Regions from separate parts of the Homo sapiens genome. Here regions 2 and 3 are each linked to region 1. Evidence: fine-mapped expression QTL. A gene starts in region 1. Each other region holds a variant in brackets. All regions are shown on one strand. Distances are between the middles of the regions. Region 1 holds the start of CCDC183-AS1 (CCDC183 antisense RNA 1). Region 2 has its middle 12 kb from the start of TMEM141. Region 3 has its middle 9.0 kb from the start of LCN15.

Region 1 (4,035 bases):
GCCTTCTGCAGCTTCAAGTCCGTTGAGAAGAAAATGACAGACATGCTAAAAGAGGAAGAAGAGAGGCTCCAGCTGGCGCACAGCAACATGACCAAGGGCCAGGAGCTGCTGCTGACCATCCAGATGGGCATCGACAACCTCTATGTCCGGCTGATGGGCATTAACTTGCCTGCGACCCAGGTACCGGGAGTGAGGCTGAGCTGCCACACACCAGGTCCCTGGGCAGGGCCAGAGGGGAGATGAGACCCTCCTCCCGGCCTACAGAGAGAAGTGGTGCTCTCCAACACCCTCGATTTGAACAGCAAGCTGGCGTACTGCGAGGGGAAGCTCACGTACCTGGCTGACAGAGTGCAGATGGTGTCCAGGACCGAGGAGGTAGCCCCGGGCTGGGAGGAACCTGCACAGCCCACGTCCCCTCAAAGCTGACAGGCTCCCGTTCAGAGTGTCTGCACGGCTGAAGGGGGCTTTGCCCTGCAGGGCGACACAAAGGTGAGGGACACCCTGGAGTCCTCGACTCTGATGGAGAAGTACAACACCAGGATCAGCTTTGAGAACCGGGAGGAGGATATGATCGGTACAGGCCCCGGAACTGGGGCCCGGGCTGCAGGCGGGTGGCTGGAACACAGGTCGGGGTGGCGCCGGCTCCCATCCCACCGGGACATCCTGGAGGGACAGCGGGGCTACAGGGTGCATCAGTTGTACCTGCAGGACTTTAATTGATGGAGGTGACTTAGTGATGCCATGGGGAGGCTAAAGCCACTGAAATACCTTGTTAATTTCTCCGAAAGGAGGAGGCATGCCATGCCAGACGGGCCCGGAGGAGAGGCACCAGGGCTGGAGCAGGGAGGAGCGCGGTGAAGGCCTGGGCCGGAGCTTCCACTGGGGGTTCTGCGGGAAAGGCTAGGCAGGGCAGCGTGAGCCGCTGCGAATGGGCTGGGCTGAGTCCTCCCGGCACGCTGGGGCTGTCCCTGGGGCAAGGCACCTGGCCCGGGTCGGTGGAGGGCGGGGGCGAGAGGCGGGTCGGGCGGCTGCGCCTAGCTGGGCTAGCCCCGTGTGCGAGCCGCCGCCTCCGCCCGCAGACACCTTCCAGTTCCCCGACATGGACCACAGCTACGTCCCTTCGCGCGCCGAGATCAAGAGGCAGGCGCAGCGGCTAATCGAGGGGAAGCTCAAGGCGGCCAAGAAAAAGAAGAAGTAGCCCCGCCGCCCCGCTCCCTGCTTTGCTACACAAATAAACATTTTTCCAGGACTGCTGCGGACGCTGGGGCGACCGGGGTCTCGGAGAGGAGCACGGGACACGCAGGATCGGGGGAGGTTCTGCGTAAGGAGGCAGCCCGGGCCCGGAACTGCGCGCCAGAACCGCGTGCGCATGCGCCGACCGCGCGCGCCGCGCCCCCGCGGCCCTCGCGGCGCCCCGTAGCCGCGCACCCCTCCCGTCCCGCCGAGCCGGCGCCAAGATGGCGGCGCTGACTCCTGGAGAGCGGTCGCGCCGGAGGCCGCGGGGGCCGGAGCGGAGCAGCCGCGGCTGAGGTTCCCGAGTCGCCGCTCGGGGCTGCGCTCCGCCGCCGGGACCCCGGCCTCTGGCCGCGCCGGCTCCGGCCTCCGGGGGGGCCGGGGCCGCCGGGACATGGTGCCAGTCGCACCCCTTCCCCGCCGCCGCTGAGCTCGCCGGCCGCGCCCGGGCTGGGACGTCCGAGCGGGAAGATGTTTTCCGCCCTGAAGAAGCTGGTGGGGTCGGACCAGGCCCCGGGCCGGGACAAGAACATCCCCGCCGGGCTGCAGTCCATGAACCAGGCGTTGCAGAGGCGCTTCGCCAAGGGGGTGCAGTACAACAGTGAGTGCGGCGGGCCGGGGGGGCGCGGGAGCGCCGCGCGGGTCTCCGAACCCAGGCCCCGGGCGCCGCGCGGTGGTGGGTGTCGGTCTCACCTGCTTGCCGGTTGTGGGGTGCGCTGGGCCCGCCGGGCGCTCCGGGAGCGGGGGCGCGGGCCAGGGGACGCGAGGAGAGGCCAGGCCAGGGCCGGGTCCTCGCGGCCCCCGAGCCGCGGGTCGTTTCCCAGCCGCACTCGCCTGCCGCGTGTCGCTCCCGCCGCGCTGTGCAGTGGAGCGGGTCGGCGGCGGCGGGGTTGGCCCGGCTGCCCGGCCCGGGGGTGATTACATAATGCCAAGCAGGGCCCGCCGGCCCGGGGCGCCGCGCCCCCGACGCTCCACGGTGCCCAGCCCCGGGCACCACTCACCTGCAGGAGGTGCGGGGAACCCAGCCGGCCTTGGCGCTTTCAGCGGGATTTTTCTTTGTTGACTTCCTACTGAGTTTGAAGACAGAATATTAGCTACGCCACACATTCTCGCCTTTTTTTTTAAAAGAAGCGTTTGTAAGAGACGTATCTAGAAAAGCTCCAGAAGGCACGGGCTGACTTGCGACTGTAGGAGACATCCCATTTCTCGTAGGAAGGAGGAGTCATTTACGGACTCCTGAGTGCCTGGGACGCTCCATTCCTTTGTTATAAATTGTGTAAATTGTCCTCGACCTCTTATGAGTTTTTCCATCTTGCGGGCTCTTTCCCAGTAGTTTTTGAAAGCTTTTATGTGGTTCCCTGTTTTGACATTGCTTCCCTCTTAGCCATTTCCGTATGTTTCTATGAGGTTTTAGGACGCTACGCCTATCCAGTTTTTTGGTCACTTTAAGGGGAGCCTTAGAGCCTCCGTGATATTTCCATGGTAATGTAGAATTTTAAGAACTAATGATCAGAAAGACTCTTGTGCAGGTTTAAAAGCAAGTTCATGAATTCGCGTGCCGTGTGCACGGAGAGAGGCCGTAGTTCCTGGGGCTGGAGCTAGTCCAGGAGGACAGTGAAGATGTCGCCTTCCTTAGTCCCCCGGCCTGTGAGCAAGAGGAAGCTGCAGACCACTCGGGCCACCCTCACCCAGACACCTTTAGCAGTAAGCAAGATAAAACAACTTCTTAAAGATAAGTCTGAGCATCTAGGTATGAAAGTTGGTGTCCGGGCCGGGCACGGTGGCTCATGCCTGTAATCCCAGCACTTTGGGAGGCCAAGGCGGGCAGATCACGAGGTCAGGAATTCGAGACCAGCCTGGCCAACATAGTGAAACACCGTCTCTACTAAAAATACGAAAAAAAAATTTAAAAGAAAGTTGATGTCCGAACCAAGGGCCGTATTGGCTTTTCTTATACTCTAGAACATACGACGACAAAGAAGATTTTGATGAAGTTCAAATTAGAGTCAGCGTGCTCATCAGAAAGAAAGCGCAGCCAACACGTTTAGGAACAGAAACGGATTATGTTGAAGACAAACAATCCATTGCGTTTGTGTTCAGTAACCCAAGCATCAAAGGAACTTGTGGCTGGGGAGAAGGCTTGACTATTTGAAATCTCAGGACTCCTCTGTCCAGGAGCTCCCAGACTCCCGTGGAGTGGAAGCCTGGGGGCTCGCTGAAGAAGTCACGTGACTGGAACGTGCTTAATGCTTGGCTGTCTGGTAAGGAAAATAAAGTGGTGCATTTTGAATAAAAATAAAAGCTGATTTTAAATGTGTTATAATTGAAACTTTATACATAGCTGGCATTCGGAGAAGAGAATATTGAGTCAAAATAACTGAGTTTACGCCAGTTTTTAGACTCTGCGTTTGGATCCTTTATTTAATTTTATTGCTTACAGTATTGGCTAAGCTCAGTATTAGTCCCTGGGAAATCAGGCCTGGACCTGGAAACTGTTCACCTTCTGAAAAGGCTCCCCGAGGGTCCTGGGCAAGGTCCACCTCATGCACCAGGACCACCCCTGTGTGGTCCTGGGCGAGTGTGACTAAAAAGGGCAATGGGGTCCTTCCAGAGGAGAAAAGCCAGTCTCCAGTACTTGGAGAACAGGTTATGATCTCCTAGAACTGAATGAAAGGTGGTGAGACAGAGAGAAATTTGAATTTGTACCTAAATTACATTTTAGAAAGATGTTATCTTTATAGCTGAATAACATGCAATTTTAAAACTTTTGAGTTTCTGTGTTAGAATAGAAAGTTTCTAGTA
Region 2 (4,035 bases), 29 kb before region 1:
GTTTGACGGTCATGGAGCTGGAGACCTCGGGAGGGTCCATTTGAAGAGCAGCACCGGCTCCTCCCTGGGCCTCAGGCTCCACGACCTTCAGACTTTAAAAGCGGTAATACCGGCTTCTCCCTGGGTTTCCAGCTATATAACCCTCAGACATGAAGCGCAACAGCACCGGCTCCTCCCCGCCTCCAGTTCCATGACCCTCAAACTACAACAGCAGCACCAGCCTCTCCCCAGGTCTCCAGCTCCACCACCTTCAAACTAGAACAACACCACCAGCTTCTCCCTGGGTCTCCAGTTCCACAACGCTCAAACTAGAACAACACCAGCTTCTCCCCAGGTCTCCAGCTCCACAGCCCTCAAACTAGAACAACGCTGGCACCTCCCTGATTCTCCAGTTCCATGACCCTATAATTAGAACAACACCAGCTCCTTCTCTGGTCTCCAGCTCCACAACCCTCAAACTAGAATAACACCAGCTCCTCTCCAAGTCTCCAGTTCCATGACTCTCAAACTAGAACAACACCAGCTCCTCCTCAGTTCTCCAGCTCCACGACCCTCAAACTAGAACAACACTGGCTCCTCCCCAGGCCTCCAGCTCCATGACCCTTAAACTAGAACACCACCACCAGCTTCTCCCCTGGTCTCCAGCTCCATAACCCTCAAACTAGAAAACACTGGCACCACCCCGATTCTCCAGCTCCACTAACCTCAAACTAGAACAACACCAGCTCCTCCTCAAATCTCCAGGTCCAGGACCCTCAAACTAGAAAAACACTGGCTCCTCCCCAGGCCTCCAGCTCTGCAATCCTCAAACTAGAACAACACCATCTCCTCCCCAGGTCTCCAGCTCTGTGAACCTCAAACTAGAACAACACCACCAGCTCCTCCCAGGTCTCCAGCTCCCCAACCCTCAAACTGGATCAACACCAGCTCCTCCAGGGTCTCCAGCTCCCCGACCCTCAAACTGGATCAACACCGGCTCCTCCAGGGTTTCCAGCTCCCCAACCCTCAAACTGGATCAACACCGGCTCCTCCTCAGTCTCCAGCTCCGTGACCCTCAAACTGGATCAACACCGGCTCCTCCTCAGTCTCCAGCTCCCCGACCCTCAAACTGGATCAACACCAGCTCCTCCAGGGTCTCCAGTTCCCCGACCCTCAAACTGGATCAACACCAGGTCCTCCAGAGTCTCCAGCTCCCCGACCCTCAAACTGGATCAACACCAGCTCCTCCAGGGTCTCCAGCTCCCCAACTCTCAAACTGGATCAACACCGGCTCCTCCAGGGTCTCCAGCTCCCCGACCCTCAAACTGGATCAACACTGGCTCCTCCAGGGTCTCCAGCTCCCCGACCCTCAAACTGGATCAACACTGGCTCCTCCTCAGTCTCCAGCTCCGTGACCCTCCAACTGGATCAACACCAGCTCCTCCAGGGTCTCCAGCTCCCCGACCCTCAAACTGGATCAACACTGGCTCCTCCCCAGGCCTCCAGCTCCGTGACCCTCAAACTAGATCAACACCAGCTCCTCCAGGGTCTCCAGCTCCCCAACGCTCAAACTAGATCAACACTGGCTCCTCCAGGGTCTCCAGCTCCCCAATGCTCAAACTAGATCAACACCAGCTCCTCCAGGGTCTCCAGCTCCCCAACCCTCAAACTAGATCAACACCGGCTCCTCCTCAGGTCTCCAGCTCCCCGACCCTCAAACTGGATCAACACCAGCTCCTCCAGGGTCTCCAGCTCCCCAATGCTCAAACTAGATCAACACCGGCTCCTCCTCAGGTCTCCAGCTCTGCGACCCTCAAACTAGAACAACAACACCATCTCCTCCCC[G/A]TCTCTCCTACTTGCATGTCCATTTATAGGCTCTCTGCAAGAAGAAAAATATGGCTTTTTTTGCCCGAACCTGCAGGCAGTCAGACCTTATGGTTGTCTTCCCTTGTTCCCTAAACATTGCTGTTATTCTGTTCTTTTTCAAGGTGCACTGATTTCATATTGTTCAAACATACATGTTTTACAATCAATTTGTACAGTTAACACAATTATCACAGTGGTCCTGAGGTGACTTACATCCTCAGTTTACAAAGATAACAGGAGTAAGTGACTAAAGTAAAGACAGGCATAAGAAATTGTAAAAGTATTATTTGGGAACTGACAAATGTCCATGAAATCTTCACAATTTGTGTTCTTCTGCTGCGGCTCCAGCTGGTCCCTCCATTCGGGGTCCCTGACTTCCTGCAACATGCTGGCATGCACCTGTAGTCCCAGCTACTCAGGAGGCTGAGGCAGAGAATTGTTTGAACCTGGGAGGTAGAGGTTGCAGTGAGCCAAGATCGCTGCCACTACACTCCAGCCTGGGCCACAGAGCGAGACTCCGTCTCAAAAAAAAAAGAAAGAACTGGAGGCTGACACAGGCCAAAGAAGCAGCTCAGGCTGAAATTGAACAGTACCACCTGCAGAGGGAGAAAGAGTTGAAAGCCAAGGAAGCTGCGGCACTGGAATCCATGGCACTGGCAGCACCAAAGTGGAGAAGGAGACCCAGGAGAAGATGACCATCCTCCAGACCTACTTTCCTCACAACAGGGATGAAGTCTGGGATAACCTCTTGGCTTTTGTCTGTGACATTCAGCCAGAAATGCATGAAAACTACCGCATAAATGGATAGAAGAAGAGAAGCACCTGTTCTTTGGATAGGCATTTTAGATGCCCTCATGAAATATGAAGCTTTAGCATAGCTCTAGTTATAGTCTTATGAAATTATGAAGGGGACCTGCCCCTCCACACCTGCGGGTATTTCTCACCAGGTGGAGATGAGAGACTGAGAAAACAAATAAGACACAAAGACAAAGTATAAGGGAAGAAAAGTGGGCCCAGGGGACCGGCACTCAGCAAGTGAGGAACTGCACCGACGCTGGTCTCTGAGTTCCTCAGTATTTATTGATCACTAGCTCTACTATCTCGGTGAGGGGGACATGGCAGGACTATAGGGTAATGGTGGGCAGAGGGTCAGCAGGAAAACATGAGCAAAGGACTCTGTGTCATAAATAAGTTTAGGGAAAGGTGCTGTGCCTGGATGTGCACGTAGGCCAGGTTTATGTCTGACTTTACACAAACCTCTCAGTGCAGTAAAGAGCAGTATTGCCGCCAGCATGTCTCACCTCCAGCCATGGGGCAGTTTTCTCCTATCTCAGTAAACAGAATGTATGATTGGGCTTTACACCAAGACATTCCATTCCCAGGGATGAGCAGGAGACAGATGCCTTCCTCTTATCTCAACTGCAAAGAGGCCTTCCTCTTTCACTAATCCTCCTCAGTACAGACCCTTTATGGGTGTCAGCCTGGGGGACGATCAGGTCTTTCCCTTCCCATGAGGCCATATCTCAGGCTGTCTCAGTGGGGGGAGACCTGGACAATACGCAGGCTTTCTTGGGCAGAGGTCCCTGCGGCTTTCCGCAGTGCACTGTGTCCCTGGTTAATGGAGAATGGAGAATGGCGATGACTTTTACCAAGCATACTGCCTGCAAACACATTGTTAACAAAGCACATGCTGTATAGCCCTAAATCCCTCAAACCTTGAGTTAACACAGCACATGTTTCTGTGAGTACAGGGTTGGGGCTAAGGTTACAGATTAACAGCATGTCAAAGCAGAAGAATTTTTCTTAATACAGATCAAAATGGAGTTTCTTATGTCTTCCTTTTTCTACATAGACACAGTAACAGTCTGACCTCTCTTTCCCCCACATTTCCCCCTTTTCTTTTTGACAAAACCACCATCATCATCATGGCCCATTCTCGATGGTCGCTGTCTCTTCGGAGCTGTTGGGTACAGCTGCAGACTGACAACAGACAGAAGCATTAACACGAAATTTACGATAGCGGAACTTCCGAGGGTTTTAACCCAAGTGACAGGGTTAAGACTTGTGAGGCCGGCTGGGCACGGTGGCTCACGCCTGTAATCCCAGCACTTTGGGAGGCCAAGGTGGGTGGATCACGAGGTCAGGAGATTGAGACCATCCTGGCTAACAGAGTGAAACCCTGTCTCTACT
Region 3 (4,035 bases), 35 kb before region 1:
TAATCCCAGCACTTTGGGAGGCCAAGGTGGGCAGATCACCTGAGGTCAGGAGGTCGAGACCAGCCTGACCAACATGGAGAAACCCCGTCTCTACTAAAAAGATACAAAAAAATTAGCCAGGCGTGGTGGCTTACGCCTGTAATCCCAGCACTTTGGGATCAGGAGTTCGAGACCAGCCTGACCAACATGGTGAAACCTCGTCTCTACTAAAAACATATAAAAAAATTAGCTGGACATAGTAGTGGGCACCTGTAATCCCAGCTACTGGGGAGGCTGAGGCAAGAGAATCACTTGAACCCAGGCGGCGGAGGTTGCAGTGAGCCAAGATAGTGCCAACTGCACTCTCCAGCCTGGGTGACAGAGCAAGACTCTGTGTCAAAAAAAAAGAAAAAAGAAAAAAAAAAAAGAAAACAGTGTAGCAGGCAAAGGTTTGATTTCCACACCAAAGCCTAACTCTGAGAGCATGGTTTTCTTCCAGATTCTCTCTAAATACTAATTTCAGGGAAGACAGGCCCATTCCCAGCCTCCTGGAAATCCTTCTCAACACAGTTCTTGAGTCTGTGGTCCCTCCCATGGTCCTCCCCACCAGCACTCTGCTGTAGCTCTCAGGCTGCTCTGCCACCTCCCCTCCCCATCTACCTGCTCAAGGACTGGCCCGTTTGCTGTCTTGGGTGGAAGGGGCAGTCCTGAACTCTCTTCTTCAAAGTGACAGTTTAATTCTCCACCCCTTAAATCTTGGCGGGAGGGGCACCTTGTGACTGCTTTTGTAACCGAACACACATTCAGCTGCTCAAAAGCCAAAACTCAAGAGACAGGAGTTGGTGGGAAGAAAGCAATTTATTCAGACAGCCAGCAAACCAAGAAGATGGTGGACTAGAGTCCTAATGTGCCATCTCAGGTGGGTACAAATTTCAAGCTCTTTTTATGTTAAGGGCAGAGAAAGAGAAGGTGGTTAGGATCAAGAAGTGATCTACAGTCGGGTGCGGTGGCTCACGCCTGTAATCCCAACACTCCCACTTTGGGAGGCCGAGGCGAGCAGATCATCTGAGGTCGGGAGTTCGAGACCAGCCTGACCAACATGGAGAAACACCGTCTCTACTAAAAATACAAAATTAGCCGGGCATAGTGGCGCATGCCTGTATTCCCAGCTACTCTGGAGGCTGAGGCAGGAGTATCACTTGAACACAGGAGGCAGAGGTTGCAGTGAGCTGAGATGGTGCCATTGCACTCCAGCCTGGGTGACAGAGCAAGACTCCGTCTCAAAAAGAGGTGACCTACATCTGGGTGGGGTGGCTCAAACCTGTAATCCCAGCACTTTGGGAGGCCAGGGCAGGTGGACCACTTGAGCTCACAAGTTCGAGACCAGCCTGGGCAACATGGTAAAACCCTGTCTCTACAAAAAATACAAAAATTAGCCTAGCATGGTGGTGTGCACCTGTAGTCCCAGCTACTCAGAAGGCTGAGGTTGGAGGATGACTTGAGCCCAGGAGGTGGAGGTTGCAGTGAGCCGAGATGGCACCACTGCACTCCAGCCTGGGTGATAGACCTTGTCAAAAAAAAAAAAAAAAAAAAAAGAAGTGGCCTATGAGCACAGACATCTCAGACATCTGGGCACCAGCAAGTCTGAGGAGGTTGGGAACTTCTTTGTCCTTAGTCAGGTCGCAATGCTTTTACACATATTTAATAAAATATTGTTAGTTGTTTATATACTTTCAACCTCAGAGTTAGTTTTTAAAACTACATGATTACTGTTTTTCCATATTATCTCAGTGCTCCGAAATTATCCTAGCCTACGTGCAGGATGGGTAAAGGCCCCTTGAACACAAACGGAGTGAGTTATGTTAGTTCTACTGTTTTACTGTTATACTTTGGCCAATTGAATACAGTGGAAGGGATGCTGTGCCAGTTCGGGAGTGGCCTGGAAACTGCTGGAAACTGCTAAACTGGCCTGGAGACTGCTACTTCCTGTGTCTTCGAAGTCCACTGGCACATGAGAAGTACAACTGCTCAGAGGCAGCCATGTTGAAAGGAAGCCCAAGCAGCCACATGAACACCCTGGTTTACAGGCCAGCAGATCCCCCAGCAACAGCCATCATTAGCTGCCAGCTACTTCCTGCAACAATGTGATCCTAGATTCAGCAAAACAAAACAAATCCTGTTGCTGGTTTCTCCTGCTCAGGCCTGGAGGCATCCAGACCTCACCAGAACAGACACACAATATAGTGGAACTGATGTGTAGACGCAGTCAACACACAAGAACAACCATCACCCGGGGAGTCAACCCTGACCCCAGGGCGGGGGAGACCAGAAACTCTCTCCCATGTCCTCTCTCCCCTCGGCCTCAGGAGGGACCCATGTGGGCACTGGCATCCAGGATGAAGACTACACTTCCCAGCATCCCTTGCAGCAAGCAGTGGCCATGTGACCAGGCTGTGGCCAATGGGGAGGCGAGGCCTGTGCACAGCGGCTGCCTTTA[G/C]AGGAAGGAAGTTTTGTGCCCTGTTGTCCCCTTCTCCTCTCCCTGCTGGCTGGCAGGAGACAGGGTGGACTCTCAGGGGGAAGCTACACCCTAAGGAAGTCAGAACAGCAAGATGGAAGGAGGCTAAGACCCTAAAAACTGCATAGAGAAGAATCTCCCGACTGCCTTGGACTTTCATGTGAAGGGAATGAACCTCTGTCTTAGTTAAGCCACCGTGATTCAGGGTCCTTGTCACATTCACCGAGGCTGTAACCTAATTGGTAGAAAGAACAGGAGCGGGAGGGGAGATGGAGTCAGAGAGGCAGGCAGAGGTCAGATCACATCAGGCCTGCAGGTCAAGATGGAGGAAGAAACAGGCAACATAGGACTCAAGGACCACACCTGCTCCCAGGTGAAGGGATTTTGCCGTGGGTGCCCCTCCCTGTCTGCTGGAGAAAGCTAATTTGACCCACTTCCCTTTAGGACTTTGCAAGATGCACATCACAGTCACAGGTACTTGTCTCCTAACAGTCCTTTCAGGGGAACTGCCCCACCCCTAATTAACCCAGCCTCAGGTATTCCTTTATAGCAATGCAGGTGGACTGACACATATCTTTAGTGTCGTGAGACTGTGACAAGAGCAGGAAAGAATCCTCGTGTGCATCCCTCTGAGCGTTGGGAGCTGTTGTTGTAGCAGCTGCTGTTACTCATCCTGACTGATACACAGACACCGCCAGTAGCCCTCTCTCCTGGAAACGCCATGTAAGTTAGGTGAGGCATGACCCAGGAAAGCTCTCAAGCTGACTTCCCTCCTACCCTCAGGGCTGCGGAGCAGGTCCCTCATTATCTAAGATCAGTTGGACACCTGTACGCCTGCCATGGCCTGGAGCAAGTGCCAGGCACTGTGGATGATGAATATGAGAACAGCATCAACCCTGCCCTCCTGCAGGTGACTGGCCAGACCGTGGGATTCCTCCACAACCAACTCTGCACACACAGCTCACTCATGTCGAGCAGGAAGCGGAGCTTGGGATCACCTGACCCGCTCCCCTCACCTGGGAGCAGCTTATATAGAAGCGCCTGTAGTTCACACAGGGCTGATGGTTCCAGCTTCCAAGACACCCCGAGGCCTCCTGGGCTGCTTGGTAATCAGACCAGGTACGTGCAAAGAGGCATGGCTCTTTATTTTCACTTAATTGAGAAAACCACATCAGCAAAGAGAGCATCCAAGCTCAGTGGCCCTTTCTCCCCACAACAGTGACCATTAACCTTTTAAAAGATGCTTTATGGGTTATTTGCCAAACCTCCTTCTTCATGCCGAGGTGTGATGAGGCTCATAAATAGGCCAGACTTGGGAGGGGACAAATGCGAGCAATGCCACCAATGAGAGGCCCAGGCAGAGCCGGTCTCGGGGCTGCCCAGCCATGTGTGCACCAAACATGGATGTGTCAGTGGCCGTGCCAGGAGTCAAGCTCTTGGCCAGGGGCCTCTGGGTGGCCAAGGCCAAGTCTTGTTCAAAAGGTGAGTTCAACTGAGCCAACCATGGCAGAAATACATAAGGGAGACCCCATGCCTCCTCT

Evidence for each region. PIP is the estimated chance that this variant, and not a neighbour inherited with it, causes the effect.
Region 2: its variant is fine-mapped to the expression of CCDC183-AS1 in sun-exposed skin (GTEx, PIP 0.94).
Region 3: its variant is fine-mapped to the expression of CCDC183-AS1 in testis (GTEx, PIP above 0.99).

What each region holds. Positions count from the first base shown.
Region 1 is chr9:136,806,493-136,810,527 of GRCh38, forward strand. CCDC183-AS1 (CCDC183 antisense RNA 1) reads right to left here and starts at 2,356. Exons shown (of 5, transcript NR_024580.1): 1 at 2,235-2,356; 2 at 337-710; 3 at 1-45. CCDC183 (coiled-coil domain containing 183) reads left to right here. Exons shown (of 14, transcript NM_001039374.5): 11 at 12-180; 12 at 265-375; 13 at 478-574; 14 at 1,080-1,249. The coding sequence ends at 1,198. It overlaps RABL6 (RAB, member RAS oncogene family like 6), which reads left to right and starts at 1,456. Exons shown (of 15, transcript NM_024718.5): 1 at 1,456-1,834. The coding sequence starts at 1,705. It also overlaps the pseudogene LOC100422233. RefSeq lists enhancers at 400-995, 996-1,592 and silencers at 868-1,097, 1,298-1,467, 1,518-1,577, 1,598-1,727, 1,738-2,267.
Region 2 is chr9:136,777,566-136,781,600 of GRCh38, forward strand. It overlaps the pseudogene ATP6V1G1P3. Among named protein-coding and RNA genes, the nearest start is that of TMEM141, 12 kb to the right of the region's middle. The variant G/A (reference allele first, on the strand shown) is at 1,825.
Region 3 is chr9:136,771,472-136,775,506 of GRCh38, forward strand. No RefSeq gene overlaps it. Among named protein-coding and RNA genes, the nearest start is that of LCN15, 9.0 kb to the left of the region's middle. RefSeq lists an enhancer at 2,286-2,580. The variant G/C (reference allele first, on the strand shown) is at 2,477.